Homo sapiens: one gene and its partners. The protein of the gene in region 3 purifies or fractionates together with the protein of the main gene of each other region. This does not show direct contact. Each region holds a gene or a part of one and is shown on either strand. Other genes may lie near its edges.

Region 1 (7,951 bases), on a different chromosome or scaffold from region 3:
TCCCTAGCATCAGGTCACATTTCCTTTCCAGTGCCTCTGTCTCCTGTTTCCTAGGGGTGTGGCCTGTTGCCTTCCTGAGGCCAGCAGCCATCCTGTTTTTGTACTGGCACCACATGTACATGTAGAAGTTGACGTGTGCTTGCTGAGTGAGCTTGTTGTACCAACTCAGTTTTGAAAACCTGGGACCGCACAGCTATGTGATGTCACAGTGGTGGCTTTCTATCAGCAGGATTTGTGATTGCAAGGAAATTGTAGTTACTCGTTAACAGTGTAGAAGTGATTCTGACTTACATGAGGCAAGCGATGGGGCCTTTAGATTTATGGAAATGTATCTGTGTGTTAAATACACCTGAAACTGATTTTCAGGAGTAGACTCCTTGATCTTTTCATTCTTTTTAGTTCATTCAAATGCTCCCAGTAAATATCTGACAGTTGCTTGCTTTGGGTTAATACTAACCTTAGTAATAGTAGTAGAAACAATTCTTGCTTTGATTAGTGAAAACTATTAGTAATCAATAGACCCTAAGCGTTTGAATATAATTGAGTTTAAAACTATCCACCTGTAACACTAGGAAATAAATTTCTGAAAAAAATTAAATTGTAAACCAAGTTGTGAGGGATATACTTGGAAAGCCTGATTTCAGACTCTCCATGTTTATATTTAAAAGCTGCATTGTATTTGTCATTTCCTGTTCAGATTCAAAGATCATATAGCTTCATAATTTTTTGGATAGTCATTTTTATCCTCATTTTTGGGGAAAAACATGTTATTTCAAAGGTTTTCGTGTTTCGTTTTTATTCAATTTAACATTTGATCACCTATGGCAGACCTTTGCTATTGATAATAAATACTTCCTTAAATCTTTGCAGATTCCCTGATTTGCACATTTCATATAATGTATGGAACTTTGGCAGTGATTAGAACATTCTCTAAAACAGGGCCCTGATTGCCTTGTTGCTCTTTAGCGCATTTGGTGGTTTCCAGCATTGCTGTCAGCCTCCATTGAATTTGACTTGCCACACAGATTTATCAAAAATGTGTTTATTTTTTAGTGAAAAACTAGAATTTTTTTTAAAACAAAACCTCTTAAATATATAGTCTCCTCTCTTACAAGCACTAGCAGTTGGCTTTGGGGTAGAGAACAATAAATTAACTGAAAATTGGAAATTGCATTCATATTTGTGTGTAAAAATCACAGATGCATATGTGGACTTTCAGGATCACTCACTGACAACTCATTAGATCTGAGATAACCCATTAAATCACTACACTAATCTGAAAATGCAGCCAATTTATATTATATAAATGTCGGTTTTGTTTTTTCTTTCTTTGAGACAGAGTCTCGCTCTGTCGCCAGGGTGGAGTGCAGTGGCGCGATCTCAGCTCACTGCAACCTCCACCTCCTGGGTTCAAGCGAGTGTCCTGCCTCAGCCTCCTGAGTAGCTGGGATTACAGGTGCACGCCACCACACCCAGCTAATTTTTGTACTTTTAGTAGAGACGGGGTTTCACCATGTTGTTCAGTCTGATCTCGAACTCCTGACCTCATGATCTACGTGCCTTGGCCTCCCAAAGTGCTGGGATTACAGGCATGAGCCATGGCGCCTGGCCTATATAAATGTTTTGTACAGTATTTATCTCCTCAAATTATAATTTTGGGCAAAGAAAGCGGGTTTCAAGTTTAAGAACTTTAAAAAGTTTTATTAACTTTTTCATATTTTGTTATGGAAATTTAAAGAATATACAAAGTAAGTAGACTAGTGTAATAAACCACAACACCAATTTTAATAGTTGCCAGCATTCTCCTATTTTTGCGTCATTTGTACCTTCACCCATTGCCACACTCAATTTTCCAAATTGTGCCATTTTACTTTCCCACCAGCAGTGGATTGCAATGCAATTTTTGGCATTGTCCTTTTTTTTTTTTTTTTTTTTTAAGACTTGTCAAGTGCAGTAGGAAAGCAAAGTAAACCCAAAGCAAGCAAATAAAAGCAGAAACCAATGAAACCAAAAACAGATAAGCAATAGAGAAAATCAGTGAAACAAAATGCTGGTAGACATGAGAAAGTCATTGAAGAGAGGCTGAACCACCATGCTCTCCTTCATGATGAGCTGTTCAAAGAAGAATCTCATCTGTTCTCCCTTAACCTTTCTCCCTCTGCTGCCTCCCCCAAACCTAAATGTTTCCACCTCCCAGTAGACTGACATCCTCACAACTGTGTTCAGTGGAGTCTACAGTTTTCATCTCACTCCATCTCTACAATGGTGAGGCTTTTAGCTACATTTTCCTTCTTGAAATGAGCCTCCCTTGACTTTGTCATAGCACACTTTCCCAATTTTTAAAAAAAATCCTCTTTAAAAATTCTCAGTATTTGTCACCATTTCACTGTCACTCCTTTGTTGACCCTTTTGGAAGTCATCCTTGCTCCTTTCCCTCCTTCCCTTCTCTGCAATAGCTGACCCATTGCTGATGCCTTTCAATCCTCATCATAGATATTTCTTGAATTTGTCCACATTTTACTATTTCTACCTAGAACAGAATGATGATTTTGTGCCTGGACCACTGTTATAGCCTCCTAAATAGCCTCCTTGCTTTTTCTCATCTCCATTCCAACCATCTCAATTTAACTGACAGAACAGTCTTTTAAAGAATAAACTGATGTAACACTCCTGCTTAAAGCTTTTCAATGGCTCCTGATTCAGCTGTGAAAGAAATCCCTACTGTGTGGCACCAGGACCTGTGTGACCTGCAAGGCGCCTGTTTTCCTCAACAAAGCCTCTTTTACACCACTTGCTCCCCACACCACCCTGGCCCCTTCCACTTACTCAAAAACACTGAGCTCCTTTTCACTGTGGGGCCATTGAATATGCTGTTTTCCCTCCCTAGAACCTTTTCCTCTCATTCTTCACCTGCCCAACTCATATTTATCCATGCAGCCTCAGTTTTAATGGCATTTCCTCCCAGGCCTTCCAAGACCACTCTCCCTCAGGCAGCTTTCCTGACATCTTTAGCCTGCCCGCTCATGCTCTCTACCTTTTTTCTGTATCAAAATGCCTTTGTTTGCAAGTAAAAGAAGGCCTGACTTAACCTGCCTTTAAACAGTAAGGACACAAGTATGCCTATGTTATTAGAGGTCTGCAGGTAAGGCACGTAAAGGGTCATCTTTTTCCAGTGTCTTCAACTCCATTTCTCTGAGGTTCCATCAGCTACATTCTGTGCCATGACTTTATCCTCAGTGCATTTTTCGGATGGTAATCAAATGGCTGTAACATGTTCACCTCTAGCTCAGCATGATACTCAGAGGAAGAATAGAGTTGCTTCTAGGAGTTTTGTGATGAGAATGAGGGAATTTCTTTCCCTGGAGCCTCCAGCAAGCTTGTCATTAAGTACCTCCTCAGGTTTCTGGCTCGAGTTGCATCTCATGCACACCTCTCAATCTATCCCTGTGGCAGAGAATGTCTCTTATTGAAAAAATGGCCTGGGTCTGCCTGTCTCTGAACTAACACTGCATCAGGAGAATGGGATTGCCTTGATCACCCAAGATCAGTGATTCTCAAAGTGTGGTTTATGGAGCAGCATGACCTGGGCACTTGTTAGAAATGGAGTTTTTCTGGCCCCACCCCAGACCTACTGAATAAGAATCTCTGTGCTCTGTGCATGGAGTGGGGCCCACTCATCTGTGGTTTAACAAGCCTTCCAGGTGATTCTGGCACATGTTAAAGTTTGAGGACCCCTGGCCAAGACTAGTAAGGATCTAGTTCTGGAGCTGAAGTCAGTCCCATCAAATATAATATATGGTGGAGGGTAGGGTGTGACAAGGGGTATTTCGGGGAGACAACCACAGTGACCACTGCACCTTTATAGCACTCCTCACAATTTGTAATTATGCATTTGTTTGTGTCATTATTTGTGTAATATCTGTCTCCCCCAACAACACTCTAAACTCTACAATGACAGGGACTCAGTCTAGCTTGTCAGAGTAGCCTCAATACCGGCTATAGAACCTGCTTTATATATGCTGAGCGTTCAATAAGTTCTTGATGAAAAAGTAATAGAAGATATTTCTTGTGCCTCTCAGTTCTGTCATCAGTTGGTTCCGTTCCATTTGTTTCTCTCACAGTCGGGGGTGATATGTGTGTGCACGCCTACCTCAGCGGGCAGCCCTTGGAGGAATCACAGCTGAGCATGCTGGCCTGCTTCCTCGTCTACCACTCTGTGCCAGCTCCACAGCACCTGCCACCTATAGGACTAGAAGGTAATTGCATATCTAAGTCTTATCTTCAGTAACTCTGTTACCTACCCCTTTATGTTCTAGTTTCTCAGTAGTTACTGCCCCTAGTTTGACTTTCCTCTTCATTAATGTTGCAGTGTCATTGTTAGGGACTGTTTTGGAGCAAAAAAGAAAAAATTATCAACTTTATATATGAATAACTTTCATTTTTATTCAGAAAAGGATGGATTCTTCTTCACAGAGCCCCAAACACTGATCTATACTAATAAACTAAATATTCCATATTATTCTTTACTAATTGATTTTTTTATTAAAGCTATTTTTCTTTATTTTCTAGGTTTTCAGTTGGGTTTTTTAGAATCACATATAATCTTAATTTCTAATATTACAAAGCTTTACAACTAATAAATACCTAATTTTGTGTTTGAATTTTTTTATAATAGTTTTAAAAATTAATAGTATTATCACCTGATTGTATTTTTCAGAATATAGAAACAGATAAAAAAAATTTATCCATTAAGCTGAATACTAAGATATGATGAATTCTAAGCACCCAATTTTTTTGAGATTCTCAAAAAAAATATTTTTTGATAAGGGCAAAGATTGTTCCATTTAATCATTTAAACTTGAAGTTTAATTACATTACTAGTTTTTTGCTGTTTTGCAAGCCTCTGATAAAAGTTTACTATCTAGAGACTTCTGGTTATGGCCATGATGGAATTGCTTGTATTGGACTCACTTGCCCTCAAAAACAAATATAAAAGCTAAAAAAAAAAAATAAGAAAAGGGAAGTACAACAGGGAGAGCTTTATATTCACCCTAGCTTCTCCCCCAAAGGCATTTGCCAGTTCATAGTACAAGAAGTAGAGTGCCAGCAAAAAGCAGCAATGCTGCAGGGCTGAGGAGCCAGAGGTTGGGTTTGTGATTGCCCAAGAGCCTAGAACTTGAGGAACACAGTCTCAGGCAGGAGAGAACAATAGAAATCATAACTCAGACTCTGGATATACCTTTCCCTTGAGTTACTTAATGATATTTTAGCCTTCATATACATGGGATAAGACTTCAAGAGATCTAGCAGAAGCCACAAGGCCAAAAATGTAAGCAAAAATGTCAGCAGCAGCATAGGACTGAGGAGACAAAGGGTGGAATTCAACGCTTGTTAAAGTGAAGTGGCTCTGATCAGCATCCCAGCTCCTCAGGTGAATTAATACATGGCCAAGCCCTAAGCCTGCTCTAGCCTAATTTTAGATCTGGTCTGCTTCAGTTTCACTCCAAGCAGACTTGACCTACAATTAGCCTAGAGCAGAACTAAGGTGATCTGTGTGCTTTCTCCCCACCTGACAGAAGAAAATGTAACCTTCATAGGAGAAAGAAAACATACCCAGAGCCCCCGCAATTTTTAGTCTACAGGATTCAGTGTTGAATCAAAAATTACGAAACATAATAATAATAAAAAAACAGATAATAGAAACAGACTTATGTGTGATTCAGATATTGGAGTTATCATACTGGAACTTAAAATAACTATGTCTAATGTTTCCAGGAAAATAGAAGGAATGATAGGGAATTTCACCAGAAACCTGGGGTCAATAAAAAAGAGTTAAATGGAAATTCTAGAACTGAAAAATATAGTAACTGAAATGAAGATCTCAGTACTGGATTATTTGAAGTGAACTGGAAGACACTTATCTGCTGGAAGACAAGTAGAAAGTAAACAAACTGAAGCACAGAGGGAAGAATGGTTAGGAAATACAGAGAAGAGTACAAGAGACATGTGGAAACCGTGAAAAAAAAATAAACATGCATGGGGTTGGAATAAGAGAATAAGAGGAGAGAAAAAATGAGTTAGAAGCAATATTTGAAGAGACAGAAGCTAAGAATTTTGAAAAATTGTGTTAAATATTAACCCACAGTGAACCCTAAGCAGGATAAATACAAAGAAAACCATACCTAGTCACATTAATAGTCAAACTACTAAAAGGAAAAGGAAGACATTTTAAAAGTATAGACTTCTTTTCAGGCCAGGCTGGACAAACAGGGTTGTTCAATGGTCAACTGTATTAGAACCAGTAAAATACCACTTAGATAGTATTTGAAGGTAGACAGGCACTTTTGCACATTATATTTAAAGAATTTATATATATATATATATATATATATATAAAATTAAACAATATTAGTAGTTTCACATGTAGTTATAGGTCACTTTCTGAAGTCTAGAATGGGTAAATTCTATCAAATCATATACAGGTTTGAGTATCCTTAATCTGAAATCTGAAGTGTTTGAAATCGAAAACGTTTTGAGCACCAACATGATGCTCAGAGGAAATGTTCATTACAGCATTTTGGATTTGGGATTTTTGGATTAAGAATGCTCAGCCGAGGCTGGGCGCAGTGGCTCACGCCTGTAATCCCAGCACTTTGGGAGGCCGAGGCGGGCGGATCACGAGGTCAGGAGATCGAGACCATCCTGGCTAACACGTTGAAACCCCATCTCTACTAAAAATACAAAAAAAATTAGCTGGGCGTGGTGGTGGGCACCTGTAGTCCCAGCTACTCGGGGGGCTGAGGCAGGAGAATGGGTGAACCCAGGAGGTGGAGTTTGCAGTGAGCCGAGAGAGCGCCACTGCACTCCAGCCCCGGTGGCAAAGTGAGACTTCGTCTCCAAAAAAAAAAAAAAAAAAAGAAAGCCAGTAGGTGTAATGCAGATATTCCAAAATCTAAAAAAATCCAGAATCCAAAACACCTCTCTTCAGAAGCATTTTGGAAAAGGGATACTCAATTTACATTACAGTGTATTAAGGAATTTCATAATTTTAAATATTGTCTTTGCATAGTCATTTTCAAAGGGAAAAATGCCTGTTTTAAACATGATTGTGTTTCTGAAGCTTCCTTGAAAGGAGAGGTATGGCTGAATTTATTTAGAGATGTGACCTTCCCACCCCATTTCCATTTTAGGGAGCACAAGCTTTGCTGAACTGCTCTTCAAATTTAAGCAGCTAAAAATGCCAGTGCGAGCTTTGCTGAGATTGGCTCCTTTGCTTCTTGGAAATCCACAGCCAATGGTGATGTGACCGTGTCTGGCGGTGAACCTACCCTGAAACGTGACTTCTGCACAACAAACGTGACCAAACATCAAAGCTAAAGCAATGTTTATAAAGTTTTATGGTATAACTAGGGGGAAATGAGCTGCACAAACCTCAATGTATTTTAAATCTGTTGCTGTCATCATTAACGGTATATGACATATAAAAGCAAGTTAAAATTTACTTTTGTAAATAAAGTTTTTGGTTTGTTTCCAAAACTCTTGATGATTGCTTTAGTTTTGGACTTAGAGAATAGAGCAGGGGTTGCTGGAGTGAATATTGATTTTTAAAGTCTTTGAACTGTGGTGGTATAGGTGAAGTGACTATGCCCAAAAATGCCAAGTTTTAAAAGAAGCTATGTCATAAAGTTTTACTTTCTGTGGCAAAAGAGCGCTTTAGCATTTCCTCAGATGTCACAGTTGTCCTGTCTAAAATAAGTTTGTACTTCTGGTGACAATGCCAGACACTCTTATGATGTGATCACCTTAAACAGGAGAAGGAGATTTTTGCCCTCAGTTGCTCAACATGAAGTACTGTGGACTGAATTGTGTCCTCCCAGAATTATATATTGAGGCCCTAATCCCTGTGTGACTGTATTAGGCAATAGGGCATATAGGAGATTACTAAGGTTAA
Region 2 (7,044 bases), on a different chromosome or scaffold from region 3:
TGAGCCAGGTGTCGTGGTGCATGTTTAGTCCTGGCTACCTGGGTGGCTGAGGTGGGAGGATTGCTTGAGTCCAGGAGTTCGAGGCTGCAGTGAGCTATGATCATACTACTGCACTCCAGGATGCGGGGCAGAGCGAGACTGTCTTTAAAAAAATGCTAGAGAAGACAACTTACAGTTACCATTAAATATGACTTGAAACCTCCAGAGGAAGTCCAAAACTAAAATATAAGATTCTGAACATACACTAATGCCAAAAGTGCCCAGTTTTATCATTTAATAGCTGAGCCTGTTTTCTGTTTTGTAAAATGAAGTAATACCTACCTTCTAGTGATGAGAATTGAAAATACCATCCACAAAGCAAGTAACACAATCCATAGACCAGGATCTCAGCAAACATAGCTTTTAAACAAAGTTTGCACTTACAAAGAAAAATAAAACCTATACTGAACCTTCATGAACCATAAGTTGTCAGCTAAACAAGCCAAAGAATAGCTCCATGTCTAAGCTGCTGTTTATCCTTGTTCAGCTGACATTAAATGGCAGGTCCTAGGGAAGGTTATGAGGTCTGCATTGTTCCCCTTGGAACTGCCCAGCTCACCCCACCTTCACATGTTTTTCCCTGTTACTGCCTTTTCTTCAAGTCTGAATAAAACCCTTCAGCTCTTTGTACTTTCTCCAAGATACCAAAAAAAAAAAAATTTCAAATTAGAGTAAAATTTAGTTTCTACATCTTACTTCTTTCAGATCCTGACCTTTTTAAATAGATTCTAATTGGAACAAAAAAACCTTTGTGTCCCTTTTGAAGAAATTTCAGAAATCACGTGATCAAAGAATAAGCAGTTGACTTGCAAATTCGCAGCTGCTGGTTGGTAAGGGGCTTCTGTAGTTTGAAAAAAGGTATTCTAAAAATTACCATTGTTTTTGTCATAGTATTTATTTTGATATTCCAAATAATACTAAAAAAGAGTATGACCGTTTAAAAATATAAATATATTAAGAGTGTAAGTTTTAAAAAATTAGATAAACATTGCTCTAGTTTTTTGTGAAACATAAAACTGTATCTCTGTTTTTCTGTGCCTTCTTATTAAAATACAGATGGCACAGCTTTCATATAGCTTTAACAACTTGATTATAAATTGCTTTCAAAAGTAACTTATTTGGATTTTCCATATCCTTTAATGAATTGCAAATATATTAACAGAAAAGACTTTCCCCCTCAACACTGTACAATTTCTGAAATAAGTCAGTTAAAGCAAAAAGAAGACACAAAATTACATTGTTTCAATGCAAACAGAACACACACTTCATACCCACACTTGCATTTTCCCAGGTTTTCACAAAGAAAATGGGTCACCATATTTCTCAGTGAAGACTCATACTATACTCTGGCTAATCAGAGACTTCCAAACTTTTTTCTTCAAAAAGAGCATTTTTAATAGACTAAATACTGGTTATCACTGAGTTTTTGTTTAAGGTACAACAGCAGCATGGTTCAAATGTTACTTGTAGTTCTCGGAAAAATTAAAAATTTTAAGTGATGAATACAGAAAATGTAGGGACCACCTTTCATTCTTTTGAGTACCACTGTTCTCTTGAAAAAATATTCTAACCTTCTAAAATCCCAGAGTTAAGAACCATTTCCAAGGGGAAAAACAAATCCAAGGCCACAACATAACTTCTGAACAAGTGTGTGCGCGTATATATATATGTATATAGATGTATTAAGTTGGTGCAAAAGTAATTGCAGGTTTTGCCATAAAAGTCATGGCAAAAACCACAATTACTTATGCACCAACCTAATATATGTGTGAAACAGAGAAAAGGATGTCAAACTACTTAATTTAATTTCTGTAAAATAAACTTCTGAAATTTGAAGCAAACATTTTGCTTGATCAAAATGTGTTCTTCTTCGGGTTGTTTGATCCCCATTCCATGCAAAAAACAAAACCAAACAAAAAAAGAAACTGCAAAAGCCAGAAAGTGTTACTACGTGGGAAATAAGGCTTCAAATACCTAAATGACTTTGAAAGTAGGTATGAGGAAAAATAAAATAGGCCAAGCTTGGGCGGAAACTGTCCCCCAACCAGCCATTGCCATGGCATGTCTTACAAAACGATCCTTTTATCCTTGGTCTCAAAAAATCAGTACCAGAAAGACTCTCACCTCTGGCACATAAATTCCTGCTACAAAAAGATAATTATACTTCAGCAAGTTATGTTCTAAGCTTAGCTTTCTCCAGGCTTTATAACGCAGAACTCAGGTTGAAGCTTTCTATAAAACTCTAAATGACACTGTTATACAGCACCTTGTGCTTTGCCAATTAAAAAAATAAAAGAATCTAAAATTAAATATTACAGAACTAATGGATAATACAATAGCATACGTGTTAGAATCCAAGTGCTAGCCTCTGGGAATTTTTCATTATATTTATTTTCTCCCAACTGTTCCTTTTTTTTAAAAAAGTATTGTTTTAGACAGTACATATACATAAATTTAGGTAGGGAAATCTGTTAAATATCTCTCTGGCACCTGATACCTAAAGACCCTGACTTGAATTAATTTATAAATTGTACCTAATCCATGTTCAAATGAGATTAACAGTAAATTATAGAAAATTACTGAGTCTACAGACTAAAATTTTTTTCACATCTTTTGTAATCCACCTTATTTTCACAGCTTGACTAACAAATACAGGTAAGTTTGTCCTCCATCAAATAATCCAGAATAATAACTGTAGGCCTGTCATTCATAAGAAACTATAATTTGTTATATTCTGACACTGGCACTTAATAAAATGTTAACAACTAAAATTTCTCTAAAAATTTCAATACATTACAGTAAAGGAGATAAACAATTTAAGACTGTTTAAATCTGTTACTGTGGAATTCCAATAATTATCATTTTATATGCATAATTGAATTCTTAAAATTGTGGCCATTTTCCAAAGACACCAATCTATATTATGACAAACTCAGAAGAGAACCTATCTCCTTCATAAGAATGTTTTTTCCCCCAAGCTAAAAATTTCCAACATCCTAAACCCAATTACTCTTAGTAAATGTTTTGGTGACTCACACTACTGAAAAAATCTGAAGCAGAGAGTCAAAAAGAATGGAAAGGATCTCAACCAAAGGTAACCACACATTCTTACACTCTGCTTAAGCAAACACTTAGAAAAGTCAAAGGGATGTTTTGAACAAATATAGATTCAAGGTTATGGTACAATTCTGATTATATTAAGGCTTTCACTATCATGATCTCTTAAAAGTCTCTCCACTTTAGTGTTCTCCTTCTGATTCATATGGTGAACTTAAGGGGTTATTAAGGGCCTTGTTTTGGCTTCTCAGTGGGGAACCACTCTATCATCTCTGAATGTTAAAGGTGATCCCACAGAGCTCAAAGAGAAGAGGCAATATGGTAAGAAACAATTTTAAAGTTTGCAATACCAAGACAACAATGATCAACACTTTGAAGCAAGATGAATAAATTAAAATTCTTGGTTAGACATTAAAGCATTCTTGCCAAGAATAAGAGTACACTGTATGGAGGGATATTTGATTCCTACATACGAGTCCCAATATGCCCATTACATTTGTTTATGGGAGATACTGCAAGTTTAAGGTAATTTACATTCCTTGGCAATCAAGTCACTGTTATAGGCAACGTCTTTTATTGTTCCATCTGGCACTTGCAAACACCATTCTTGAAGAACCTAGAAATGAAGGTCAGTTACTCTGTTTATCAGGAACAGAACCAAATAAAAACAAATTTTTGAAAAAGCAACCAAGAAACTCTGGTTCATCACTATTTTCCATATCTAATGGTTCCTTCAAGATAAAGCATAACTCTTCCTTTCATGATACTTTCCAACAAAGGGAGATTAAAGAAAAACAGAAAAGAAAGTTCCCCACCCTACCCCCCATAAATTGTCATTCATACTGGTAAAAGAGCCAGTCTTGTTAGCAGCTAAATATTGCACTGCCTTTCATTCTGTATACAGTCAGGGTCCAATGAAAGTGGCACACTCATGGTATAAGTGACGGACGATGACACCGCCAGCTCAAGAGTAAAGACTCAGTATACAGAGGGACAAGAAACACGTCAGCACTAGTCACACATCCAGTTGTAAAAGTCTGATTTCCAGAAGTTAAAATTCATCACTTTCAGCTGCATGAAGTTGTGTGTCATCCGCATCTGTCATGCTGCTCTCCTGGGATTCATCTGTTCCCACTTTAAAAATAAAACAGAAGTCCACAGTAAGTTTTCTGACAAATATGTCCTGTTGGTTCATGAAAACAAGTAAGAAAAATTGTATTATATTCAGAGAGATAAAACCCTAAATAAAGGCCCTTAAAAATCCTCATATCCTTTAATAAAATGCAACTCAAGTTTCCTAACTTTATAATAGGTCTGATATTAGCTTACTGCATTTTACCTTTAAGTTTTAACTACCAAAACTGCCTCTTCCTAATGAGTTCCTTATTCCTGCCCTAGGAATTACAACTAGCTAGTTCTCTGAGACATTAAAAAAAAAAAATTGACATTTCCCCCAACCTCCAATCACTGACTCCACTTTAAGAATACTCCCTGCTAGTCCACAGAAACACAGACTATAACCTTCAGTTTCAAAAGGTTTATGGGGTCAGTCTATCAGTCAATCAATCAATCAATCATCTATCTTGCTCTGTCACCTAGGCTGGAGTGCAGTGGCACAATCATAGCTCACTGCAGCCTCAAACTCCTGGGCTCAAGTGGTATGATTCTCCTGCCTCAGCCTCCCAAGTAGCTGGGACTATAGACACGTACCACCACAGCCAGCTACTTTTAAAAATTTGTTTAGAGACAGGGTCTCACTGGCTAGTCGTGAAATCCTAGGCTCAAGCAATCCTCCCACCTCAGCCTCCTGAGTAGCTGCGATTACATACGCAAGCCATCATGCCTGGCATATATATACTTTTTTTTTTTTTTTGAGACAGAGTTTCATTCTTGTCATCCAGGTTGGAGTGCAATGGCGTGATTTCGGCTCACTGCAACTTCAGCCTCCTGGGTTCAAGCAATTCTCCTGTCTCAGCCTCCCGAGTAGCTAGGATTACAGGCGCCCGCAACCACGCCCAGCTAATTTTTGTATTTTTAGTAGAGACGAGGTTTCACCATGTTGGTCAGCTGGTGTCATCTCCTGACCTCAGGTGATCCACCCACCTCCACCTCCCAAAGTGTTGGAATTACAGGCCTGAGCCACTGCGACTGGCCCCATGGCTTATAATTTTAATTAAAGCCTTTCACCAAGTTTTCTGGAACAAAGGCATCTAATCAGAATTTATCTTGTCAGAAATTTCTCCATTCTGTTATTTAAAAAACTACATTTTTATGAAGCAGATAAAACAGTACTGGTTACATATTCAAACATAAATTGAGGTCCAGGTAAAACTTAGCAATGAATTTGTCAAAGTCACACAGCAAACTAGATCCAGAACAGAGACTCATTATCTGACTTTATATGCATTTTGTTATTACATCACCCTGTTCAATTTCCCTAAAAGTCCATTTGGTATAATGAAAACACCATGGTTAGAAAAATAAAATAAAAGAGTAGCCTACAAATCCTTATGCAAAAGGTAACTTTCTAAATACTCAAAATCATATGTATGATACTTACTGATCTGTTCTTCTTGGGTTATTGGCTCCTCATCATCTGGAAGATAACGCTTATCAATTGCCTCTTTAATCTGGTTATTGGCTCCTTTAGGATCTAAATCCATAGCCCAAGAGAAATTCATCAGGGCGAGGTGCGTTTGACCTAACTTCTTGTAAACCTAAAAATAAACAGCAGCACTACATTTTTCATTAAGTTGTGAGCTTCAACTATAAAATTCTAACTATATATATACTTATTTATTTATTTTTGAGATGGAGTCTCACTCTATTACCCAGGCTAGAGTGCAATGGCACGATCTTGGCTCACTGCAACCTCCACCTCCCAGGTTCAAGCGATTCTCCTGCTTCAGTCTCCTGAGTAGCTCGGACTACAGGTGCCCACCACCACCCCTGGCTAATTTTTGTATTTTTAGTAGAGACAGGGTTTTGCCATGTTAGCTAGGCTACTCTCAAACTCCTGACTCAGATGATCCACCTGCCTCCCAAAGTGCTGGGATTACAGGTGTGAGCCACCGCGCCCAGCCTCTACAATTCTAAATATTTATAATTTAAATTAGGCTCCTGATTTATGTGCTCTAAACTCATTCTAAGGGTAGGACATTTTCTTCCTACAGATGAACTCATACCAGCTTTTGAGTTCCTTTTAATATAATCAGACATTATTTTCAGAATTCCTTGCTTCTATCTTTCAGGTAGTAAGTTTCCAATAAATATCACTCTGACTGGAGCAATGATAATGGGATTAAATGGATTATAAACTGCTTAATTAACTTTCATTTACAGTGATTTTAAATTGAGTTATATCAACTCTTTACAACTGTCCACAGTCACCTTAACTAATTGGCATATGGAGGTCTAGTCTGTAAAAAACTGACTAGTCTGGCCTTGGGACTCTCAGAAGCCATTTCTCTTAATCAAGACAACACAGTGCCATTCATGTTCTTCTACTTTTTTTTCTACTTTTTTTTTTTTTTTTTTTTCTTTCTGAGACAGAATCTTGTTCTCTTGCCCAGGCTGGAGTGCAGTGGGGTGATCTTGGCTCATGGCAACCTCTGCCTCCCAGGTTCAAGTGATTCTCGTGCCTCAGCCTCTGGAGTAGCTGGGATTACAGGCATGTGTCACCATGCCCAGCTAATTTTTTGTATTTTTAGTAGAGGTCAGGTTTCACCATGTTGGTCAGGCTGGTCTTAAACTCCTGACCTCACGTAATCTACCTGCCTAGGCCTCCCAAAGTGCTGGGATTACAGGCGTGAGGCACCATGCCTGGCTAGGATATCATTTTCTTAAGTGTTAGAACTAAATCTGTTATTCCCAGAGCACTCAGTTCGGAGCTTTAGTTTAATTTGCTCAATAGATATGTACAGGAAGTATTACATTTATTCTTATAAA
Region 3 (7,951 bases):
GAAGCATCATCATTTCCTGTGCAACCCAACTTTAAAATCTTCCTTAGGTCTAAGCAGATAAAGGCACTTCATAGTATGTTTCTAACATTAACAATTTTTGATTTAAAAAAAAAAAGTTAATATAAATGACTGGTGTTAGCTTTTTTTGTTGTTACATTTTGAACATACGAACAAGTCATCAATTTAAACTAGTTTTTGTGATTTTTAAGAAGTAGAATTTGGCTGGGCGCAGTTGCTCATGCCTGTAATCCCAGCACTTTGGGAGGCCAAGACGGGCGGATCATGAGGTCAGGAGATTGAGACCATCCTGGCTAACATGGTGAAACCCCGTCTCTACTAAAAATACAAAAAAATTAGCCGGGCGTGGTGGTGGGCGCCTGTAGTCCCAGCTAGTCGGGAGGCTGAGGCAGGAGAATGACGTGAACCTGGGAGGCGGAGCTTGCAGTGAGCCGAGATCGCACCACTGCACTCCGGCCTTGGTGACAGAGCGAGACTCCGTCTCAAAAAAAAAAAAAAAAAATAGAAGTAGAATTTAATCTTTTCACTTCTCTGTACCAGTTTAAAAAAATATATATCACTGATGGTATCAAAAGGTCCCACATCTGGATTTTAACTCTTATGTAGGTATAAGTAGTGCTTACTACTGAAACTGCATGGAAGATATACCTGCTTCTACTGTATATTTCTGATTGAAGAGAACATGCAGTTCCTCTTAGGGAACTGTAGGTCTGATAACCTTATATATGGATAGTTTCAAACAATTATTGCTGAGAGATCATTTAAAAAAAAAATACAATTTAAAATACTTGATTCCAGAGTAATATAAAAGTAACCTTAAGAACCTCAGCGCTAAAGGAAAACAGCAGGCAACTTCAGAATTCTCCCATCCAAATTTTCAAGAATAGAGAGTGGATTAATACCACCTTTCTAAAACAAAGCAAGTCATTTTAAAAGCTAAAGGACCCATGTTAACATAATTTGATTATCAAGTTAGAAAACCACAATTATATTTCTCATCTAATTTAGATTCTGGAAACACAGTAACTTAATGAACATTACAGGATACTTCAGATTAACCTGTCATAGAAAACTGTCTGCTGGGCCTTCAAATCCTATATTGATTCTATATCTCTGGGTTTTGTAATGTTTGGTCTTTTGTTAAGTTTTAAGGTGAATTACATGGGGTTACTTATTTCTATTAACCTAATTTCAAATCTAAAGGCAAAATTCAAATACATTTTTCTCTTTCCTATTCCTAGAAAAGATGGCCTCAGACGCTACTATCCTATGATTCTCTTTTTGTTCAGCTCATAATACAAATAGCTTATTGTTCTTCTAAGCTGTCTTATAAAGCAATACTATAAAATTAAATAGATAAAAGTTATATGGGCTATGAAGATTGTTTGCTGGTGGTAATTTTTAAGCTTGATTCTGAATAGACTTAGTAAGAAGGGCACTTGGAAGAGGTGGCTCAAATTTTGCTCTTTAAGGTATCTTGAAATTATAGGCTCACTCTCCTAAAATTTCAAAAGGCCTACAACTTTGGCTCTTAAGAGCAAAGCAGTGATAGAAGCTTTTAGAATCATTTCAAAAAGCAAGATTTCATAGTTTTCCCTCTCAAATGGCTCCCTAGTATACTTGCAGAATGAAGGCAAAGGGAAAACCAAGAATAAAACTAGCTAAGTACTCCAGCAATTGGGCTTCCTGCCTATTTTCCCTGTTCTAAAGAAGAGACACCATCCTGCAATAAATACTTCATAGACAACTGGGCTTTTGCAGTGTCAGTCGGCATTTGATGCCCCATATCTCCTGGTTCTTTTTGTTGCCAATAGTTGGCCTGGCAATGGTGGTGAAATGGGAGCAATTAATCTGTAGATGAGGAAGGGCTTCCTTTAACAGTTGAAGGGTACCATCTGGCACGATTCCAAAAACTTGTAGTGTTTTTAGTGTGGGAATTTCTCCAAGTTCACTGGAAAGGAAGAAAAAGACTTTCAGAATAGCAGTATCTATGGAAACTGTTTGACTAGAGTTATATGACCCAAATTTTACAATTTGTGTCATCTACAAAATGCAGTCTGAAAGTGTAATTTACAATAAATGATTTGAGAAAATAGCAAATTAAACTGGAAAGCACAGACCATATAGCTTGAGCAACATGTCATTAGGAAACACACTGCTGCATTTTATTGAATGAGGTTCCTAATAACCTTAGAAACTCAGATTTATTTAAGAATCCAACCATATTTGCTTCCTTTCTCCAGTTGTGATTTATACAGTGATCTGAATGGGGTTACTGTGTTATGAGAAGAAACTAGCAAGTGAGTGATGGTAAAAGCAAATGTTTTACTGCGGCACCAGTTGGAACCACCACAGGTTACATGCAAATTAAGGATATGAACTTGACCTTTATTTGAACTAGGCTCATCTCTTAAAGGGAGATGCTGTCAGGACTGATGAACTTCTTAATAATGGTTCATAGTCAACAAGTCCATTATGTGTGATGAAAACTACCACTGACTTCCCTAAGATATTTTAGATAGGGTTATACAGTTGGGTACAGGTAGAGACAATGGGTGAAAAATCACACCCTTTATAGGAGGTAATAGCCATCTTACCTCCCTACGTATTACCATTTTTTTTCTGCATAGATAAGCCAGTCCCTTTAGGTATTTCACATTAGATGAAATTCAACCCTGTTAACAGTGAAATTCTGTTTCACAAATTCTGTTTCTCAAATTCTGTTTCACAAATTCTGTTTTTCCAAAGTAAATACTGTTTGGTGTTGGTAATGATTTTTTCCTTCTTAACTCAGATCTATGTGCCTAGAAATTCATCTCTCTCATCTCTGTTTGCTCAAGGTTGGGACATACAGTACAAAGTCTCAGGAAAGGGAACATTTATTTTGGAATTTCAACAAAATCCTACTACAGATCAATGAGCACATCAATTACCTAAAGTCAGAAACATCCTTTATATTTTCACATTGTCAATAATTATTTTTAAAAAGCCCCAAACTTTCCTTATAACTGTCTTTCTTCCTTCTAGCCTATTCTATATACCAATTTCCAAGGCATCCTCCTAAAGCCTAGCTCATGTTAGTCATTCATCTGCTCCAAAACCTTTGATGCTTCCCTTGTGTTTACAGAACCCAGGCTGTTCAGCTAGTCTGAAGACCTTCCGTGTTTAACCTGCTCTTCCAGTCTTCCCACTACTCCCCTAAATGTATTTATTCTACATTCTACAAGGTGTCTTAAACCCCACAAATGTTTAATATACGTTAGCTGAGTACAAGATGAAGGCTAATTTATAAAATAAAAGCATTATCCAAGGGAAATAAATATGCTTGTTCACAAGGGGACAATAAGATCTAAAGGTATATAACCAAAGAAAATCAGAAAGAACAAATTGCTGTCATTAAGTAAACTGCTTTCTGGAATGTAGAAACACTGTCGAAGTAAGATCACAGTATACACAGATACTTATACTTAATCACTTACGATGACAGCAATCCAGCTCCAACTTTGAATCCCTCATGTGAAACTTGGGAAACGTTGTAATTACTATGAGAATTCTGGTTCTGGTATATCCAAATTAGCCAAATTGTGAGCCATTCTGCACTGGAGAATATTTAAGGGAAGAAACTGTAGGTGGAGTAAGAAAAGGAGGAATGGCAGATGGCAGAGGAGGACATGTTCTTGCAACAGCATTGGGAAAGAGATTTGGTGAGGAAAGAAATTAAGAACAGACTCTCAGAACACACCCGGGTGTTATATATAAGGGGGTTATATAAGATAAGATGATGGATGAAGAACCAGTTCCAAGTCAAAAATCCAGAAAGTCTCTAAAATTTTAAGGAGACAAAAAAAAAAAAATGCCCCCGGTATGTGCATTACCTACAACTCAGAATAAAAAATTTGCAAGCATCTTTTAAAAACTACAATGGAAGAGACTGAAGAGCAAACTAAGGGATAGCAAATAGAAATAAGTAGTTCAAGAGCCATTATTTCTAATGTAAGAAATGTAAAATCACACCAATGTCTTATGTATATTGAATTTTAGAAAATAAAAGATATTTATGAACTCTTTCACAGGATTGCTCCTTACCTTATCTGTACAATAATCCTGTTTTCCTTATAAAATCTTAAATGCCTCAACTACAAATGCTCCTACCACAGAAGTCTTTTAGTCTTATCTTAGATTAGTTTACTACCTCCAGCTTGGGTTTCTTACTTGAATGAGAAATAGGGAAGAATTAGAAGGAAGTTTAGACATAGAGAAGAAGACCAATTAAGAAGTAAGGGAATAAATATAATGGGAATAGGTCCTGGGGAAGAAAACTTTATAGTTTCCCAAGTATTTTAAAATATTACAGAAGAAAGACATTCAAATTGTATTTTCCCACTTCCGAGAAATAAATAGCCTTAAGTTCTTTAGCATAGATGGCTCTCTTGAAATTATTATGGAAACATCCTGGAATTTTTATTATAAACCTCAAATATATCAGCTGCCAAAATGATTGAAATTAGAGTCATTCTAATTCTTATTTTATCTCAAGAAACTTTTAAGCATAAGGTACCAACAAACTCATCCTAAAGGATTCACAATGCAAATCAGTGTACTATTTACACAATACCTAAAGAAATATACTCTTTACCTTAATGTTCAAGGACAGGATCTTTCTTCTTCTCTATTCTAGTGGTCTGACTTGTAACTAAACTCCTAATGCCCCTGTTTGTCTTATTTCATAAGATTTGTACAAATAAGAAATAATAATACAGTGAAGGTTCACAACAGGTCTGTGACTTCAGACCCGTGTTTGTAACTATCAATTCACACTGCCTCCAAGTATTACCATGCCATTATTATGCAGGTATCGCAATTACTATTACTATTATCCCACTGGATAAAAATATTAAAATGAAGAGCTCACAGCCTTCCCCTCGCCTCTGCTTGAGAAAAAGCATTTGGGTCATTACCTGCTTAGCTTCTTTCTTTCTGCAGAGAAGGAACAAAAGCAAGACACATGGATAGATTCTCTTGAGAAAAGCAACCCAAAAAGAATGATCACCACACTCCCCAGGGGGCTGCACAGGCAAAGAAGCAGGAGGCCAGATGGCAAGGACAGGAAAGAATGGATGACAAAGAAGCCTTTTTGGGTAGACGCTAGAAGCTCCTAGGAGTTCTGGATGCTAGAAAATAGAGAGGGCAGGGATTTTAATAAGAGTTTCATGCGCATGAATTTAAACCCCAACATTTGAGAGCTGGGAAAGTAAATCCTGCCATCCTATTTTAGGCAGTCCTTTCCCAAATGAGATACCAGCTCAGACCCTGAACCCCAAGATTAATTTAAAAATGATTAATTAAAATGCGTAGCTGCCAGATTTCCTAACTCTACTAGTTAACTCTGTGTAGCTGAAGTATCTGATTTATTCATTAATACTTGAAACTAACTTAAAAGATTCAAACTATGATTCTGAGGACTAAAGTTCTTTGTTCAAATTCACCACCCTTCCTACCTAGGAGCTGGAAGCTAAATTAACTTTTAGTTCATGAGCTACATAAATGAGTCCAGCAGCCGCATTCAAGACATGTTGGGCACCTGATCAACTCTAAGATACTGACCTCTTGTGGTTTTTAATAAAATTGCTACACATGTACATTTGCCATTAGGGAGACTTTTCCAGCCCTTTGGAATGAAATGCAGAAAACCTTTTCAAACAAGATATGATTCCCAGGATGAGTTGGGTATGGTGTTTCCCAAAGGAAAGATGGACCAGGCTGCTGCTTTCTTGCACTCCCTTGATTCTGTGGAAGTTGCTGAGCAGGTAAAACTAACCCTTGTATAAACTATTAGATTAGATAGTGACTATTTTGCCTCTGTCCAGGAGACCTAGGATTTAGATCCAGGTCAGCCACCAACTCACCATCAGGTTTGAATAAGTCACTTCACTTCACTTTTTAGACCTTAACATGCCCCTGTTCAAAAACAGTATCAGACTTACAATACATACCATCTACAGGCTTATATCTTTCCAATTTCTTCACTATCCAGGACTTACATCACTAGAAGATACAGAACTTTAAGCCCAGATGAAAGTTTTGGAATCAACTGGAGTTAATCCGAAAAATTTGGAAAGAAAAAAAAAAAAAGACACTAACCCACATTGGGTCTGCCTTCCCAATTACACTTCAAGTTTCCTGGAGGAAAAGGTTATCTTCTGCTTCTCTGCTAAGTCTTCTCATAGATACTAAGACAGCAAGCTAGTAATTAAAACTGCTTACAGCTAAACAATAAATGTTTAGTGAACAATCTGGATCAACTCAATTTCACCAGTTTAAGCAATACTCTGCTGGTCTTTCATAGCCAGTCTGTGGTATACTTATTACTAATGTTTCGGTTTCATATGTCTATTAATAAAAATGGATTTTCACACCAAGGGGCATCTCTGTTGTTTCCTGCCTTCTATTAAGCATTAAAAACAAAACATACTTACAGTAAAGTTTCAGGTATTATATCATAGCACCGACTGAGTGATAGGTGTTGGAGGTAGTTGAGCTGGAAAAATTCCTGAAAGCAGTCATTCTTTAGCATGACACTATCACTGTTAAGAAGGCAGAAGAAAAGATATTGAAAATCACACATTGATCCTAGATAAAGAAGACAGAAATAACCTACTGTTTAGTTGCTTCAACATTATGATCCTTTCCCAATTTAATGAGAAATCAAGATTTTTCAACTTTTGATCTAAAATAAACAAATAAAAAAATACCTTAAGTCTAGATGGACAAGATTGGGGCATCTTCTAACTAAAGTAGAGAGATCTAGGAAAAGCAAAAAAACATGATGGTCACTATTAAATGAGGAACAAGACAAGGATATTTGTTATCACTACTATCATTGAACATCATGCTGGAAGTTCAGGGCAATGCAATTAGAACCACACACTATTAGAAAGAAAAAATGATCATCTTGGAACATAAAATTTTCTACCCAAAAAGCCCAAGAGAATCATCCGAAAAAGAAAACTGTGTAAAATGACAATCTTTAGCTTATCTATGTATCAGCAATAGCAGGCTGGAAAAATAATAGGGAAAAAAATCCCATTCACAAAAGCAAAAAGTAAAATTAAACACCAGTATATATAAGCAAACAATATATTACAAAGGTAGCACCTCAGATCAACAAGAGAAATAATGGATCAGTAAAAAGAAATATTGCCACTACAACTGGAAAAAAATATTTCTCCAACTCAAATAACATATTTAAATACATTCCACATAATAAGTTCTAAATACAAAAATAATATTTTTGTATTTAGGGTAATAATATATTAAATATTAAAAATTACTAAATAAATAATTCAGGGTAATTATTTAATTGAATCTTGGTATAAGGTATTTCTAAACATAAAAGAAAACATAGGGAACACATAAATTTACTACATAAAATTTTAAAACTACCATATTAAAACAATTTAAAAAGTATCAGAAAACTGGGAATGTTTTCAACATATATTAAACAGTGAGTTAATCTTATATAAAGAGAAAAAAGATAAATCAAAAATAGGCAATGAACATGAACAAATCTACATTGCAAAATACCAAGATAATAAAAAGGAGCAAGAAATACCAAATAAAATTAGAAATATTTCTTCTCAGCCATCAAGTGAAAAAAAATTCTATTATAAAGTAGGTCTACCATAAAGTAGGTCTTCCATGTACCACAGGTAGATATTTAATTTTATTTGCAGGCTTTCAGGAGCCTGAACCCTGCGTTTTTTGGATAGTGAACTGATTCCTGCTTTTTTTGGATAGTGAACTGATTTTCTTTTTTTTTTAAAGAATTCAGAGAATTATACAGTTTACTTTTGGCCCAGTAATTCCACTTTTAGAAAAATATAGATGTGTATGAATATATTCAATGTGGCAACAGTTATATTAGCCCCTCCTC
Region 4 (8,114 bases), on a different chromosome or scaffold from region 3:
CCAGCTACTCGGGAGACTGAGGCAGGGGAATGGTGTGAACCCAGGAGGCAGAGCTTGCAGTGAGCCAGAATTGCGCCACTGACGCCAGCCTGGGCGACAGAGTGAGACTTGGTCTCAAAAAAAAAAAAAAAAAAAAAAAAAGTGCTGACCAGGCGCGGTGGCTCACACCTGTAATCCCAGCACTTTGGGAGGCCAAGGCGGGAGGATCACTAGGTCAGGAGATGGAGACCATCCTGGCTAACAAGGTGAGACCCCGTCTCTACTAAAAATACAAAAAAAAAATTAGCTGGGCGTGGTGGTGGGCGCCTGTAGTCCCAGCTATTCGGGAGGTTGGGGCAGAACGGCATGAACCTGGGAGGCAGAGCTTGCGGTGAGATCACGCCACTGCACTCCAGCCTGGGCGACAGAGCAAGACTCTGTCTCAAAAAAAAAAAAAGTGCTTTAAGAAAAATAAAACTATGTCGGGACAGAGAATGAATGAAGTCAGAGTGCTGTTTGCTTCTGGAAGGCTTTTTGGTGGGAGGAATCGGGGGACAGAGTCTTACTTGCTCTGTCACCCAGGCTGGAGGGCAGTGGCCCAATCTTGGCTCACTGCAGCCCCGGCCTCCCATGCTCAAGACATTGGCCCACCTCAGTTTCCAGAATAGCTGGGACTACCGGCAAGCACAACCATGCCTGGCTAATTTTTGTATTTTTTGTAGAGACCGGGTTGCGCCACATTTCCCAGGCTGGTCTTGAACTCCTCGGCCTACCAAGGTGTTGGGATTACAGTTGTGAGCCACTGCACCAGCTACAGAAGGCTTCTCTAAGGAAGCAACTTTTGAGTCCAAATCTGGATAAGTGTCATTCAAGGGACAGGGCATTCTAGCTGGAAAGACAGCCTACAAAAGTGTGAAGGTGGAAATGTACTTTGGACATTAAGTGTATAAAAGGGCCAGTTTGGGAAGGGCATGGTGGCTCACACCCATAATCCCAGCACTTTGGGAGGCCGAGGTGGGTGGCTCACCTGAGGTCAGGAGCTCGAGACCAGCCTGGCCAACATGGCAAAACCCCGTCTCTACTAAAAATACCAAAATTAGCCAGGCATGGTGGCAGGTGCCTGTGATCCCAGCTACTTGGAAGGCTGAGGCAGGAGAATCGCTTGAACCTGGAAGGCAAAGGTTGCAGTGAGCTGAGATCACGCCACTGCACTCCAGCCTGAGCAACAGAGTGAGACACCGTCTCAAAAAAAAAAATAAATAAATAAAATAAAAAATAAGGCCAGGCGTGGTGGCTCAAGCCTGTAATCCCAGCACTTTGGGAGGCCGAGGTGGGCGGATCACCTGAGGCTGGGAGTTTGAGACCAGTCTGACCAACATGAAGAAATCCCATCTCTACTAAAAATACAAAATTAGCAGGGCATGGTGCCACATGCCTCTAATCCCAGCTACTTGGGAGGCTGAGGAAGGAGAATTGCTTGAACCCGGGAGGCGGAGGTTGCAGTGAGCCAAGATCGTGCCATTGCACTCCAGCCTGGGCAACAAGAGCAAAATTCAGTCTCAAAAAAAATAAAAGAGCTAGTTGGTGCTGGGGCCTCGAGGTGAGTTTGGATTTTCTTCTAAGTGTGATGAGATGCCAATGGGGTGTTTCAGGCAGTGACAGGATCTGATTTCCTTATCTGTAAAATGGTGATAATCCTTGCAGTTTTGTGAAGATGGCAGATATCTGTAAATGACTGCCCAACATGTTATAGGCACTCAATAAATAAAAATTACTGGGCCGGGTGCAGTGGCTCATGCCTGTAATCCCAGCACTTTGCGAGGCCGAGGCGGGCGAATCACCTGAGGTCAGGAATCCAGACTAGCCTGGCTAACATGGTGAAACCCCGTTTCTACTAAAAATACAAAAAATTAGCCAGGCGTGGTGGCACGCGCCTGTATCCCAGCTATTCCAGAGGCTCAGGCAGGAGAATCGCCTGAACCCGGGAGGAGGAGGTTGCAGTGAGCCGAGATCGTGCCATTGCACCCCAGCTTGGGCAACAAGAGCGAAGCTCTTCTCAAAAAAAGAAAAAGGAAAAGAAAAATGAGGAAAAGCTATACGACCCACTGAATATAAGGGATCTAAACTAGCAGCTAAAGAAATGAACGTGTTTCACAAATATTAAATGTCCCTTAAATAAACAATGGCCTGACCTTAAGTATAGTTTTTCCCTATAGCATGCAAAATTACCTAAAGCTATCAACAATACCCAGAAGGCTGTTAGAAATGCAAACTGGGGCTGGGTGCGGTGGCTCACGCATGTAATCCCAGCACCTTGGAAGGTAGAGGCGCGTGGATTACCTGAGGTCAGTAGTTCAAGACCAGCCTGACCAATATTATGAAACCCCGTCTCTACTAAAAATACAAAAATTAGCTGGGCATGGTGGCGCATGCCTGTAATCCCAGCTACTCAGGAAGCTGAGGCAGGAGAATCGCTTGAACTCGGGAGGCAGAGGTTGCGGTGAGCCGAAATCACGCCACTGCACTCCAACCTGGGCAACAAGAGCGAAACTCCGTCTCAAAAAAAAAAAAAAAAAAAAAAATTAGCTGGGCGTGGTGGCTGGCGGGCGCCTGTAATCCCGGCTACTGGGCAGGCTAAGACAGGAGAATTGCTTGAACCCGGGACGGGGAGGCTGCAGTGAGCCCAGACCGCGCCAGTGCACTCCAGCCTGGGAGACAGAGCGAGACTCCATCTCAAAAAAAAATAAAATAAAATAAAATAAAATAAAATAAAATAAAAAAATAAAGAAATGCAAACTGATAGGCCCCACGTCAGACCCATCCGAATCTCTGGGGATGGGGCCGAGGAGGTTGTGTTTTAACAGACTCTCCAGGTGAAGTCTGAGAAGCCCTGCTCTATGGCAACTTAATTACAGCCGCACAGATTGACAGGTTATTCCAATTCATGGCAGAATAAATGGATGACAGTAAAAAAAAAAAAAAGTCAGCGTTTTTTCCCCCAATGTTCACAGATGTTCATGTTCCTGTCTTAATGCTCTCTAGCCACCCTTTAGCCCCGTTCTTACCAGCTAGATTGTTATAGCAGTCTGTCTGGGTGGTATGCAATATGTTTTCTTGTTCAGGCGTGAGGGCCGGGCCCTGAGGTCCGAGATTAGGTAACGGAGAGGGCAGACTCGGATCCAGACCCCGCAGCTGAAGCAGAGCTCGATGGTACCTACTCACAGCATCTCGGTACTTCCCTTCCCGGTAGCGCTGGTTCCCTTCCTCCTTGTACAGCTGAGCCTCCTGCAGACGCTTCTCCATAACTGTCGCCCACGGTTCTTGCGGAACTGGGAAGTGAAGGAGCAAGTGAAGCTCTGGGGTTGGGAGCAAAATAACTGACAGTAGCAGCCAATTTAAGGAGGCAGGAAATTACCCTTCTTCCTGGAGAGTCCCCCCACAGGGACCTGCGGTTTGCTTGTTTCTACTGAAAGCCCCACCTCTCCTTTCTGCAGTCTTTTTCTCAAGAAGTGCAGGCAAGTAGTAAGGAAAGGGATGTGGGAATAATGAAGCCCAACATTAAGTGACTTCCTAAAGAGGCGATGTGGGGGTGGATGAGACTTTCCGAAGAACTCAAGCAAGGCCCTACTCAGGAATTGTTGCGGGCGTGAGAACGCCTGGGACACTGGCTTCCGCCTTTCTATTGGACCCGCCCCCCCCCGACCTGGAAGTAGAAGGGAGTGGGCGGGACTAGTGCTAAAACTCCAGAGGGCTTCAAGCAATTCTAACTCTTCTTCCTTATTCAACATTTATTTGTTGACGTCAATAAATAAACTGGGAAGCCGAGGTGAACCACCAGCGACACTGAGGTGTCCACATAAGCGTCACAGCTGCAAGCCCACCCGGCGCCGTGACCAGTTCCTCGCCCTCTGCAGATGCCCAAACCTGGAAGTCTCCTGGGCTTCGGTTTACCAGCAGGAGCAAGGAGAGGAAAGGGTCAGAGATGCGTACAGTTTGGTATCTTGAGGGTCGCGCGCATTGCGCCACACCACCCAATCAGAAGAGGCTCCGGAAAAATAATCCCGCAGAAACGACCCCGCCTCCTCAGCGGACCAACCTGGGAAAAAAAAAAAAAAAAAATTCCCCTGGCAGCTTCGCCAATTGGAAAAATCCGGACGATCACGGATGACCAATCGGAACGGCAAATGACGATTCAAGTTGTCCAATAAGAGAAAAAGGGCGGGTTCAAGGGCCTCTGTTGCTGGGTAGAAGTTGAGGCGTTGAGGAAAAAGGAGGGCCCGGATTACAGTATTTCTTCGTTCTGGGGAGCCCTTTTGCTTCCTAGCCAGAAAAACAATTGCTACTAGGCTTACATGTTGCAACACATTCTCTAATGACTTTTTTTTTGTCGTTACTGCTGCAAGCACAGACAGTAGGGAAAAGAGGCTAGCGACCCCTAAAACGCCACAGCAAATGGAAGTCAGACGGAAGTAAGGGTGGTGGGAGGGGCATGGCATCGGGGAGCTCCGGGCGGCTGCGCAGAACTCCCCGGCTGGAAGTACTGAAAGACCGGCGCGCACACGCTTCCGTGCTACGAGGCACTTGAGCTGCAGCCAGCCTTGCCCGTCTTGGACTCCACTGCGGCTGCGCGATAAAAGCACCGGCGGCGATTGGCCCGGGGGCGCCAGAGGGCGGGAGGAAGCGGGAGGAACTCCGTCGTCCTCCGCGCGCGCCTGCCCGCGGCTGGGGAACCAAGGGCCTGGAGGGGAAACAGCTCCCTGCTGCGTTGTTTTGGGCTCCGTGAGCCGAAAGGGGGAGGGGAGACGAAGGAGAAGCAAACACTGCGCAGCGGGACCGTGCGCGGCCTCCGCTCCTGCGTGCGTGCGCTCGCTCGCGCGGGCTCAGTGCTGGCGCGTGAGGCGGAGGCGGGCGGCGGCGGCGGCGCCTGCGCGGTCGGACTCGGTCGACGGTTCGCAGGGGAGGAGGCGGCGGGAGGCGGAGGAGGCGGCGGCGGCGATGGAGGTGAAGCGGCTGAAAGTGACCGAGCTGCGGTCGGAGCTGCAGCGGCGGGGCCTGGACTCGCGCGGCCTCAAGGTGGATCTGGCGCAGCGGCTGCAGGAGGCGCTGGACGCCGAGATGCTCGAGGACGAGGCCGGCGGCGGCGGGGCCGGGCCCGGCGGGGCCTGCAAGGCGGAGCCTCGGCCTGTGGCCGCGTCGGGCGGCGGCCCGGGCGGGGACGAGGAGGAGGACGAAGAGGAGGAGGAGGAGGACGAGGAGGCGCTGCTTGAGGACGAGGACGAGGAGCCACCCCCTGCTCAAGCCTTGGGTCAGGCCGCGCAGCCGCCGCCGGAGCCCCCGGAGGCGGCAGCCATGGAGGCCGCGGCCGAGCCAGATGCTTCCGAGAAGCCGGCGGAGGCCACGGCCGGGTCAGGCGGGGTAAATGGTGGCGAAGAGCAGGGCCTCGGCAAGAGGGAGGAAGACGAACCCGAGGAGCGGAGCGGGGACGAGACGCCGGGATCCGAGGTGCCGGGTGACAAGGCCGCCGAGGAACAGGGTGAGGAGCTGGCAGCCGAGCCCGGCTCCAACCTGCCGGCTGCGCCCCTGATCTAGCACCCCGCCCTGCACCGCAGGGTCCGAGTCCTTGTTCTCGCTTGCCTCAAAGTGCCATTTGATGGAACTCCTTTCATTCTCTACCCACCTTTCTGAGGGGTTAGGCCGCCTCTCGTGGCCCTACTCTTTGCAGGAGGAAGGTTCCTGCCTAACTTGGTTCCTTGGTGATAGTGGATGGCAGTGAGTGATTTTGCATGCGAACTACTTGTGAGCTACCTGTGGAACAGTCTCCCACGGTGCTTGTTATATTTTTCTTAGCTGAGAAAGTGCTAAGCAATTGGGGATTACACGGAGAACTAGGCCCACAGTTAGAGGGTCAGGTCTTTGGGCTACCTGACCTAACTTTTTCGCCGTAAAAATGTTAAGCAAAAATCGAAGTCCGTCAAAGTCCGTTCCATTAAAAGCATGTTACCAGAGCTTGAGCCACAGAGAATCTGAAAATCCAACCTTGCTCCTCTTTGAGCTGTAAGGGAGAGCCTCTAGTGTAACAGTGTCGAGTTTAATAGTTAACCAGTGAAGAGAAAAATCTTAATCTAGTTCATTTAGAGTTAGTTAACGTTACTTGGCTAGGGTTTTTATCTTGCTTGGATTATGATTAAATTTTAATTGTCCCACTGAGTCCGTGGATAGGCATATTTGTAGATTTGCTGAACACCTGGTGCTAGTCTTTTACGTTTCAGGTCCCTCGGTTCCTGAATGGTAATGACTGAGGTGCTGTTGGGTCCGTTGAGTAACCTTGTGGAAGAGGTGTGTTGTAGAATCGCCCCAGGGAGTTAGTGACCTTTCTCCTTTCTTTTGAAGTGATTGGATGGTTAGAACTGATCCATAACAGTGTGTGTCCGAGTAGGGAGGATAAGTCTTACTATAAAGTGGGTGGCCTCAGTTCTTTTGTTAGTAATATTTTTAGGCCACTATGGAGAGTCATGGTATAATCGGAACCCATTGTACAACAATCACATGCAACTTGCAGATTGTTTGTCCTGTGTCCCGGAGCAAAAATCCCATTACATAACCTTTGACTTATGTATATCCCAAAGAGCAGATAAAAAAATAATTGAAGGATAGGCTGGGGGTGGTGGCTCACGCCTGTAATCCTGGCACTTTGGGAGGCCAGGCGGGTGGATCACCTGAGGTCAGGAGTTTGAGACCAGCCTGGTCAACATGGTGAAACCCCTGTCTCTAGTAAAAATACAAAATATTAGCCGGGCGTGATGGCGGGTGCCGGTAATCCCAGCTTCTTGGGAGGCTGAGGCGGGAGAATGGCTTGAACCCGGGAGGCGGAGGTTGCGGTGAGCTGAGATCGCGCCACTACACTCCAGCCTGGGCGACAGAACGAGACTCTGTCTCAAAAAAATATATATTGAAGGATAAAAGACTGCTTTAAAGAAATTATTATTAAAAACCTTCCTAGTGTTGCAAAATACAGAAGCCTAGGGAAAAACTCCAAGTTTTTTCCTCTTGCAGAGAAGTTGCTAAATATACAACAACACCTTTCTGCCCCAAATGTGCAGTCTAGATGCGGTATTATTTATGGATCTCTTGTGACTTAGTGGTTTGCTCTTGCAACTTTCAGTAGAAGTCCCTGATAAAAATACAGCTGTGTATAATGCACTTGAGTCCATTTGCCACATGAATAAAGCCATGGATGGCTGTGTATTTCAGTGCAGGAAAGGGAAATAAAAGAAATTGAGGCTTCTCTGTATCATGAAGGTGTGGAAAAGTGTTACAAAATATGTACTAACTGCCTACCTTAAATCTAGATCTGACAAGAGTCAAAATTAAATTAACCTTTGAGGTTTTCTTAGAGACCTAGAGGATATTTTTTATGTCATATTGATGGGGAAATCTGCAAGTTTGACCTGATTTAAGTGGATAAATTTAGAATGCAAAAATTGTCCAATTTTTATCTAGTGCTTGACTGTAATTAGCCCATAATGCCCCTTTTTAAAAAAATTAAATCACAGCCAATGACAGAAAGCTGATCTTTAGAAATAAAATGTTATGTGAATGTAGTGGGAATAACCTGGCTGTTTTGATCAGACAGATTCTCAGATTCCCTGTTAGTGTCTATTAGTTGTGAGCTTATTCTACACTCCAGTATGAAAACTGCTGATTTTCTTTCCCTCGTTTTTGTAGGAGATGACCAGGATAGTGAAAAGTCAAAACCAGCAGGCTCAGATGGTGAGCGGCGGGGGGTAAAGAGACAGCGGGATGAGAAGGATGAACATGGCCGAGCTTACTATGAATTCCGAGAGGAGGCTTACCACAGCCGGTGAGGGAAACAGTCCCTTTCGTTGAAGGGAGTGTCTGCTCTGATTTTGGTATACCTGGTATTGACTGGAGAGACTGGAAGGAGGGTGGATTCAAAATGGAATAGGTTTTTATAGGCATGAGTTTTAGATTGCATCTACCATGGAAACTCCTATTGCCCTTTCTCATTTATTGGAAAAAGCTGTCTGCTGGGATTTGATATTCACTGACAGTTTAAAATGGACATAATGTCATACACACACACCCCTCAAAGAAGAGGGCTTTGTTTACATTGT

The links.
Region 1: the proteins of SKP2 (region 3) and ANAPC1 purify together in Homo sapiens (affinity purification with mass spectrometry; 3 studies listed by BioGRID and IntAct, with this or other methods). This does not show direct contact.
Region 2: the proteins of SKP2 (region 3) and CDC27 purify together in Homo sapiens (affinity purification with western blotting; 2 studies listed by BioGRID, with this or other methods). This does not show direct contact.
Region 4: the proteins of SKP2 (region 3) and TTC9C purify together in Homo sapiens (co-immunoprecipitation; 3 studies listed by BioGRID and IntAct, with this or other methods). This does not show direct contact.

What each region holds. Positions count from the first base shown.
Region 1 is NC_000002.12:111,768,646-111,776,596, reverse strand, and holds part of ANAPC1 (anaphase-promoting complex subunit 1), read left to right. Parts: intron 1-4,121; coding exon 4,122-4,256; intron 4,257-5,462; exon of another isoform or gene 5,463-5,536; intron 5,537-7,190; coding exon 7,191-7,306; 3' UTR 7,307-7,951. UniProt on the Homo sapiens protein: Component of the anaphase promoting complex/cyclosome (APC/C), a cell cycle-regulated E3 ubiquitin ligase that controls progression through mitosis and the G1 phase of the cell cycle.
Region 2 is NC_000017.11:47,116,788-47,123,831, forward strand, and holds the end of CDC27 (cell division cycle protein 27 homolog), read right to left. Parts: intron 5,833-7,044; coding exon of another isoform or gene 5,814-5,832; coding exon 5,657-5,813; intron 4,231-5,656; coding exon 4,148-4,230; 3' UTR 916-4,147; downstream 1-915. UniProt on the Homo sapiens protein: Component of the anaphase promoting complex/cyclosome (APC/C), a cell cycle-regulated E3 ubiquitin ligase that controls progression through mitosis and the G1 phase of the cell cycle.
Region 3 is NC_000005.10:36,175,836-36,183,786, reverse strand, and holds part of SKP2 (S-phase kinase-associated protein 2), read right to left. Parts: intron 6,823-7,951; coding exon 6,771-6,822; intron 6,603-6,770; coding exon 6,495-6,602; intron 5,190-6,494; exon of another isoform or gene 4,977-5,189; intron 1,970-4,976; coding exon 1,756-1,969; 3' UTR 1-1,755. UniProt on the Homo sapiens protein: Substrate recognition component of a SCF (SKP1-CUL1-F-box protein) E3 ubiquitin-protein ligase complex which mediates the ubiquitination and subsequent proteasomal degradation of target proteins involved in cell cycle progression, signal transduction and transcription.
Region 4 is NC_000011.10:62,724,017-62,732,130, reverse strand, and holds the start of TTC9C (tetratricopeptide repeat protein 9C), read right to left. Parts: upstream 3,646-8,114; 5' UTR 3,309-3,645; coding exon of another isoform or gene 3,283-3,308; coding exon 3,045-3,282; intron 1-3,044. Other genes in the region: HNRNPUL2 (heterogeneous nuclear ribonucleoprotein U-like protein 2), read left to right, coding at 4,975-5,512, 7,705-7,840.